Homo sapiens: one gene and its partner. The protein of the gene in region 2 interacts with the protein of the main gene of each other region in a pairwise test. Each region holds a gene or a part of one and is shown on either strand. Other genes may lie near its edges.

Region 1 (3,897 bases), on a different chromosome or scaffold from region 2:
GAAACCAGATACTCTCAGGATATATACCACCCATCAAAGAGAGTTATCAGGAAGAAAAATATGCTTTCTCATATCACCTCTTGGCATTACTCTTAGTATCAATACAGAACAGGTTGGTCATATGGTGGTTTTCATGGTTTTCAAGCTAGGCTTGCCCATCAGAATCACTTGTGGAACTTTTAAAATAGACATTTCCCTAGGACCTATCTCATACCTACTTAATAAGAACCTCCATGGGCAAAGCCAAAAATAAGAATATGCTCAGAAAACTCCCAAGGTTATTCTGATTCATAACCTGAGTTAAGAAGTAGAGACTGAATTTTAGTCCTCTCAATATCCTAAGCACTGAGGACAGGGCTAGAATACAATAAAATTCAATAAATGTTTAGTGAATTTATAAACAAGCCCATAAATGCAATTCTTTTGAATCAAAGACCAAACAAACAGACAGTACTGCCCTGGCAGGTTAGACAGTGCCGCCCTGGCAGGGTTAGACAGTGCCGCTCTGGCAGGTTAGACAGTGCCGCCCTGGCAGGTTAGACAGTTCCGCTCTGGCAGGGTTGGACAGTACTGCAGTGGCAGGGTTAGACAGTGCCACCCTGGCAGGGTTAGACAGTGCTGCCTTGGCAGGTTAGACAGTGCCGCCCTGGCAGAGTTAGACAGTGCCGCTCTGGCAGGTTAGACAGTGCCGCTCTGGCAGGTTAGACAGTGCCGCCCTGGCAGGGTTAGACAGTGCCGCCCTGGAAGGGTTAGACAGTGCCGCCCTGGAAGGGTTAGACAGTGCCGCCCTGGCACGGTTAGACAGTACTGCCGTGGCAGGTTAGACAGTGCCGCTCTGGCAGGGTTAGATGAATTTATAGACCTTACTCTATAAGGCCTATACTTGCTCTAGAAGGCCTTACCTTACTCTAGAAGGCCTATCATATCATAGGGGATTTTGTAAAACACAACACAACTCCAAACCTCCAAATAATGAATTACCCTAAATATAAAAGACTGTATAGTGTTATTGAGGAATGGCGTGGTAGAAATTCCACAGGGAATGGGGAAGTAGAAACTACTGTATTGATGATGTCCTAGGAATTTGAGGAATGTCAATTTTCAGTCTAAGTCAGGGGGATGAACTTTCAAACAAGTTACAACTGATGCTATAATTCATACTTTATACATCTTTATCTCTTAGAAAGTTCAGCTTACCAATGGCAATTGCCTTTTGTGTTACAAATAATGGCATGGCTATTTGTAATGTTTCTACTTTTTAACTTAAACCCGACCTTAAAATGCATGCCATTAAATAGTAATTTTAAAGTCGTTTGATATACTACTCATTTTATTCCCTTTTTAAATAAAACAATTGTTTCACTTGATATTCATTTATGAAATCAAGTTTAACATAGTCTATGCACATGGCATATTAATTACCATATTACTAAAATTTAACAATACCTTCTAACTATTCAATTAGAGCCCAAGGAGAAAGAAGCATATGTGCACACACAAAGCACCATTATTTTATATTAGGTGACAGGGAGGTTCACATCCATTCATTCCCCATTGACTAAACATCTGCTAGATGCCAGATGCAGTGCTAGAAACTAGAGAAACAAAGAAGAGTGAGCCAAACTACTGAACCAAGACACAGTTTAGCTGGGGACATGCAAGTAGATGTAAGATATTAATACAAAAGTACAAAAGTCTGAGAGGACATAAAACACATTGTTTAGAATGGTTATCTTTTGAGAAATGAGAATGGGGAAACTTTTGTAGTCTACTTATTTGTATTTCTGACTTGTATATTTTTAAACAAGTATCTGTTTTCCTTATAATAAAATACAGAAATGCATAATCTAATGGAAAAGCAAAAGAAACCCGTGACCAAATTTTCACAGGCCTTCTACAAGCTGCTTAATTCTGTTGACAACTTAGCCCAATTACCCTTAAAAGCAAAATTACAGAATAATACAATTCTTATATGCTCATCCAATGGTTCAACCTCCATTACATTCAACTTATTTCCTTCAGAAATGAAAGGTTAAACATCTTAATGATAAGCAGGGAAATTAAGATATTACAACTAGACCATGATTATTATTGAAAACATGAAATCAAGGCATTTTTTTTGCATTTGAGCAAGGTATTTATGCCACAAATGACTAAAGATGTAACCTAGCTACACAAATACTTTACTGTACAAATTTAAATTTTTGCATTAACTCTGAGTAACACAATTATCCCAAATAATTATTTTATTTCAAATACTCTTTCATCCATAGAATATTTTCTAATAATCCTTTTAACCATACAGATCATCTGTCAACTCTAAAACCTGCACCAACTCTTTTTAAAAACATTAGCGATAATGAAAAATAAGTTAAGTAAAAATTAACTTTTTCAAGTCAAAATTCTGTAACTAATAATTAAATAATATAGTTGTTATTTAAAATAAAGTATTATCACTATAAATCAATAGCCTACATACACGATAAACAGATCCAGATATTAGAGCTGTTTATTAAATAATAAAGTTAATTCTGCTATTTACAAAACTGTCATTAATAGAGTATATCAGTATAGAGCTGATAAACTCTTTCCTCAGCTTATTAAAGGACTGTCATGTGGCTCAAAATGAGAAGCACTGATAAAAGATTAATATGCCATAATGAAGACATTACCAGTAACACTGAAGGTTAGAATTTCTAAAAATTTAATTAAAATATATAGTCCAGGCACAGTGGCTCATGCCTGTAATCCTAACACTTTGGGAGGCCAGAAGAGAGGATCTCTTGAGGCCAAGTTTGAGACCAGCCTGGGCAACATAGCAAGACTTCCTCTCTACAAAAAGGTTAAAATATTAGCCAGGTGTGGTAGTACGTGCCTATAGTCCTAGCTATTCGGAAGCTGAGGCAGAAAGATTGCTTGAGTTCGAGGATTCAATGGGCTATGATGGTGCCACTGTGTTCCAGCCTGGGTGACACAGTGAAACCTTATCTCTTAAAAAGTAAATAATAAATAAATAAAAATAAATATGTAAGCTTGCAAACTACAAATTAGCATGCAAAAATGAATTCTTATTCCTCCTCCACTACTCCCGGCCTCCAGGGTCTTGCCTCACCTCCACTGTTTAGCTTCCGGGATAAGAGCTCCACTTTTTCTTGCAATTTATCATAAACAGTCACAATCTGGGACACGGCTCGGCGGGAAGACTCCACACGTTCCTGCAGCTGAGACTCCATCTCTTCACTGGAACTGCTGGCCAAAGTAGCAAGGAAAGAGAAAGCTGGCTCTTGCCCTTCCCCTGAGGACACAGGGGGAAAAAAAGAAGCCCCCCAAAATTATAAACTGGAAATAACAAAATCCATTTTTTTTCCCTCAAATGGAAAGCCTCAAAGCAGAGCTCTACTTTAAAAACCCAGATAGCATGCAGTGATAGAATCCATCACGAACACTTGCCTCTCTCTCGGTCATCTTTACGCTCCTGATTGCTATCAGAGTCTGGTTCTGGTTCAGGCACAACAAGGGCTTTTCGTTCTGTGAGTAGGTCTCCCAAGCCCTGCTCCAGATCATAACGTTTAAGGATGATACGGATGTTTTCATCAAACTGGAGAAGGGTAGGTACAATTATGAAGAAACAAAGGACACAACTTTGGAAATGAAGAGAACAGTAAGGAGAACTAAATTGGTCAAATAAAAATCTGAACAAATAAACAAGTTAGCTACCTGACTCCAGTATCGGTTGACAATCAATAGTGAGGCATCATCAGTGGCCTGTCGTCGTTCCAGTTTTTCAATGTGCTCACGAAGTTCATCTTCAATGGCCTGCCGCTGATCCAACATTTCTGCCAGCTTGCGATTTTTGGTTTGCAGTGTTCTAATGTCTAGTTCCTCCTGCCCAGTAAA
Region 2 (3,897 bases):
GGCGTCTCACTCTGTTACCTAGGCTGGAGTGCAGTGGTGCGATCTTGGCTCACTGCAACCTCCACCTCCTGGGTTCAAGTGATTCTCCTGCCTCAGCCTCCCAAGTAGCTAGGATTACAGGCACCCACCACCACCCACCACGGCCAGCTAATTTTTGTTTGTTTGTTTGAGACGGAGTCTCACTCTGTTGCCCAGGCTCGAGTGCAGTGGCGCGATCTCAGCTCACTGCAACCTCCGCCTCCCAGGTTCAAGCAATTCTTCTGCCTCAGTGTCCCAAGTAGCTGGGACTACAGGCGCACACCACCACTCCTGGCTAATTTTTGTATTTTTAGTAGAGATGGGGTTTCACTATATTGGCCAGGCTGGTCTTGAACTCCTGACCTCGTGATCCACCCACCTCAGCCTCCCAAAGCGTTGGGATTACAGTGAGCCACCATGCCCAGCCCACAGCTGGCTAATTTTTTTTTTTAGTAGAGATGGGGTTTCACCATGTTGGCCAGGCTGGTTTCAAACTCCTGCCCCAGTTGATCTGCCTGCCTTGGCCTCCCAAAGTGCTAGGATAACAGGTGTGAGCCACCACGCCTGGCCCACAATTACATTTTTCAACAGGTAGCTCCATCATCATTCAGATAAATTTCACTTAAACTTCAGCCATACCAGTGCTTCCAACTCAAGATGAAGATTCTTCTTTTTAGAGTTTAACCTGACAATTTCTTCTTGTTCTCTATTCTTTTGATTGAGAAGCTCCTGTCGCCGAATTCTCTCCCATTCTAAGCGACGTTGTCGTTCAAGTTCCTGTTTTGCTGCCTGAAAAAAAAAAGGAATTATACTTAATTTTTAAATCAAAAATTTTGCACGATTCAAAAACTGGGAAGACAACAATAAAAGTCAGGCAGAGTTTAGCACTTAGTGGCTTTAGTGCCTAAGGGTAGCTAGGCAAATCTAGTTTTATTAATGGGCTTAAAGACTTCCAAGAAAGTGGCTTCATCTATCATATTTTCTCATTTCTTCACGAGATCTTTTTTTTTTTTTTTTTTTTCCAGACAGCATCTTGCTCTGTCACCCAGGCTGGAGTGCAGTGGCACCACCTTGGCTCACTGCAACCTCCACCACCTGGGCTCAAGCGATTCTCCTGCCTCAGCCCCACCAAGTAGCTGGGATTACAGGCACACACCACCACACACCTGGCTAATTTTTGTACTTTTTGTAGAGAGAGGGTTTCACCATGTTGCCCAGGTTGGAAGACCATCCTTTTGTTACAGTCATTTTTCTCTTAATAAGTTACAGAATGACTTCATAAATATAAATGTTAACAGGAATAATTTTCCCTCTATTCTGGTATCTGGGGGAAAAATTCTATTTATATTATTTCAGTGTGCAATAACTTCCTGTGCTCCATCCCTGGCCCTTTAAAACACAGCCAGTCCTCCTAAGGACCCTTCTTTCCCAGCAACACTATCCCAAAGGCCTGTGCAAGCCCATCCTCTTGATTCCTCTCTAGAGAGACTTTCAATGCCCAGCTCTCATCTTTCTGTCTCTCCAATTCCTTGGACTCTTAATCTGGATCTTAAACTTGCTTTCGTCTAATGACTTGCTCAGTTGCCTAACTAACCTTAGCTCCTCACTCAACTTAGCTCTGCAGTCGATCCTCCTTTGATTGAGATATCACCTGCAGAGGATGCTTTCTCTACCACGTACCAGTTCTGAAAACTCCTTATAAGCAAGAAGCCTCTTTCCCTCCTCAAGGGAAGGAATGATCAGATTTGTATAGGGTAAGAATGAAATGATGCAGAGCAAAAGGCAAAACAAAAATTCAAAAATAAGCATTTTTTAATCAAATGAAATATAGTCACTTATTAAATGTAATGATTTTCTTAAGAAGTAAAAAACTTAAAAATAACCTCTCGTCTTTCTATGTCTTTTCTCCTTTCTTCCTCTCGTTGTCTCTCCAATTCCCGTTGCTTCTCTAAGCGTTTTTCTAATTCAAGTTGTTTCTTCCATTCTTGTTCTTGTAATTCTCTCTGTTTTCGTTCCCACTCTTCCTTTTCTTTCTGGGCTTTACGTTCTGCCTCCCTTTGTTGCTGCTCCATCAAGGCTTGGCGTCGCTTTTCCAGCTCCATGTTCCCTCGCTCATAGTTGGCTTTCCGTTTGTCCTCAAAAGTAACTGAACAAGGTATGCCTATCAGCATCCACACACATTAACAGCCTACAGAACCTGTAATCTAGTTTCTATATACTTATGCCTTGTGATCATTTGAGTGCTATCAGTATTTGAATACTTCTCCTAAGGATAATTTTAACTCAAATCTAAGTGGAAAAATATCTACTTTCTTCAAGGATATTCAATTTTAGAAAAACAAATTTTTAAGTTTGAATCCAATCAAGAGAGAAATAATTTTTATAAACTTGCCAATAAAAATACTTTTTCGGTTGGGTGTGGTGGCTCATGCCTGTAATCCCAACACTTTGGGAGGCCAAGGTGGGCGGATCACCTGAGGTCAGCAGTTCAAGACCGGCCTGGCCAACACGGTGAAACCCCATCTCTACTAAAAATACCAAAAATTAGCCAGGCATAGTGGCAGGCACCTGTAATCCCAGCTACTCAGGAGGCTGAGACAGGAGAATCGCTTGAACCCAGGAGGCGGAAGTTGCAGTGAGCCGGGATTGTGCTGTTGCACTCCAGCCTGGGCAACAAGGAAAAAAAAAAAAAACTTTTTCAACTTTTTTCTCTTCTTCAAGGACAATCAAAGCTGTGTGGTTATACATTTGTTTTGATGTCATTAACATCCTAATATATTAAAACAGCTACAAATGTATTCTTTCAACCAATATTTAAATGTTTTTAAAGGTAAAGATTTCATTACAAAGTTTCCTCTAATAACTCAGCCTAAATTAGGAGAAATACTTTAACTCAGATGTCTATAATCCTGTCAAATACATCTAACTGTCTCTTCTTCCTTCACACTCTTCTCATTTTGACCATCTTAATTTTATCAATACCAAAATACATCCCATCTATCAAATAGTTTTTTCTCATATAGCACATCAAATATTAAAAATATAAAAATTCTAAATATTCCATTACATTTAAAGGTAGAATTTAAAAGAACTCAGTATAAATATACAACTTTGACACTCAGTGATACCTGGTAATTTCTTCTGAGGCTCCTCTTCTTGCATTTTCTGATATGAAGGCAGAGTTCCATTAATGGAATCAATTTGCTTTCCTCCTCTAAAAAAATCAAACAACAAAGTTAGCATCATGTAGTCTGGACATTTTCAGACTAGATTACACAGACTACCAGTGATTATGGCAATTTGATATTGGGAATACAGTATTAAAGATATTTAAAACAGTTTGGTATGTCGTTACAAAATACAGTAGTATATGGATATTCAAGACAGAGAAATCTGGATTCAAATCACAGTTCAGCTAATTTTGGTTCTTGGGCAAGTTTTTCTTTATCTCTTTAGTCATTAGCCTCCTTATGTATAACATAATGAAAACACATCCACTTCTTTTTTTTTTTTTTTTTGAGGCAGGGTCTTGCTCTGCTGCCCAGGCTAGAGTGCTGTGGCATAATCACAACTTACTGTAGCCTTGAACTTCTATGCTCCAGTGATCCTCCTGCCCCAGCTTCCAGAGTACCTAGGACTACAGGCGCACACCACCACACCTGGCTAATTATTTTTATTTTTGTAGATACGGGGTCTCACTATGTTGTCCACGCTGGTCCTGAACTCCCGGCCTCATGTGATCCTCCCACCTTGGCTCCCAGTGTTATGATTACAGGCGTAAGCTGCCACGCCTGGCCCACACCTACTTCTAATATGTACCCTTTTCAAGTATAACTTGTTGAATACTAAAATCAATGGCAGTGCAAATATTTAACTCTC

Evidence for each region. The genes of interacting proteins can lie anywhere in the genome.
Region 1: the proteins of ITSN2 (region 2) and RNF20 interact in a two-hybrid assay, tested with the Homo sapiens proteins (one large-scale study listed by BioGRID).

What each region holds. Positions count from the first base shown.
Region 1 is NC_000009.12:101,540,191-101,544,087, reverse strand, and holds part of RNF20 (E3 ubiquitin-protein ligase BRE1A), read right to left. Parts: intron 3,886-3,897; coding exon 3,718-3,885; intron 3,599-3,717; coding exon 3,451-3,598; intron 3,296-3,450; coding exon 3,113-3,295; intron 1-3,112. UniProt on the Homo sapiens protein: Component of the RNF20/40 E3 ubiquitin-protein ligase complex that mediates monoubiquitination of 'Lys-120' of histone H2B (H2BK120ub1).
Region 2 is NC_000002.12:24,298,008-24,301,904, forward strand, and holds part of ITSN2 (intersectin-2), read right to left. Parts: intron 3,233-3,897; coding exon 3,147-3,232; intron 2,165-3,146; coding exon 1,902-2,164; intron 808-1,901; coding exon 658-807; intron 1-657.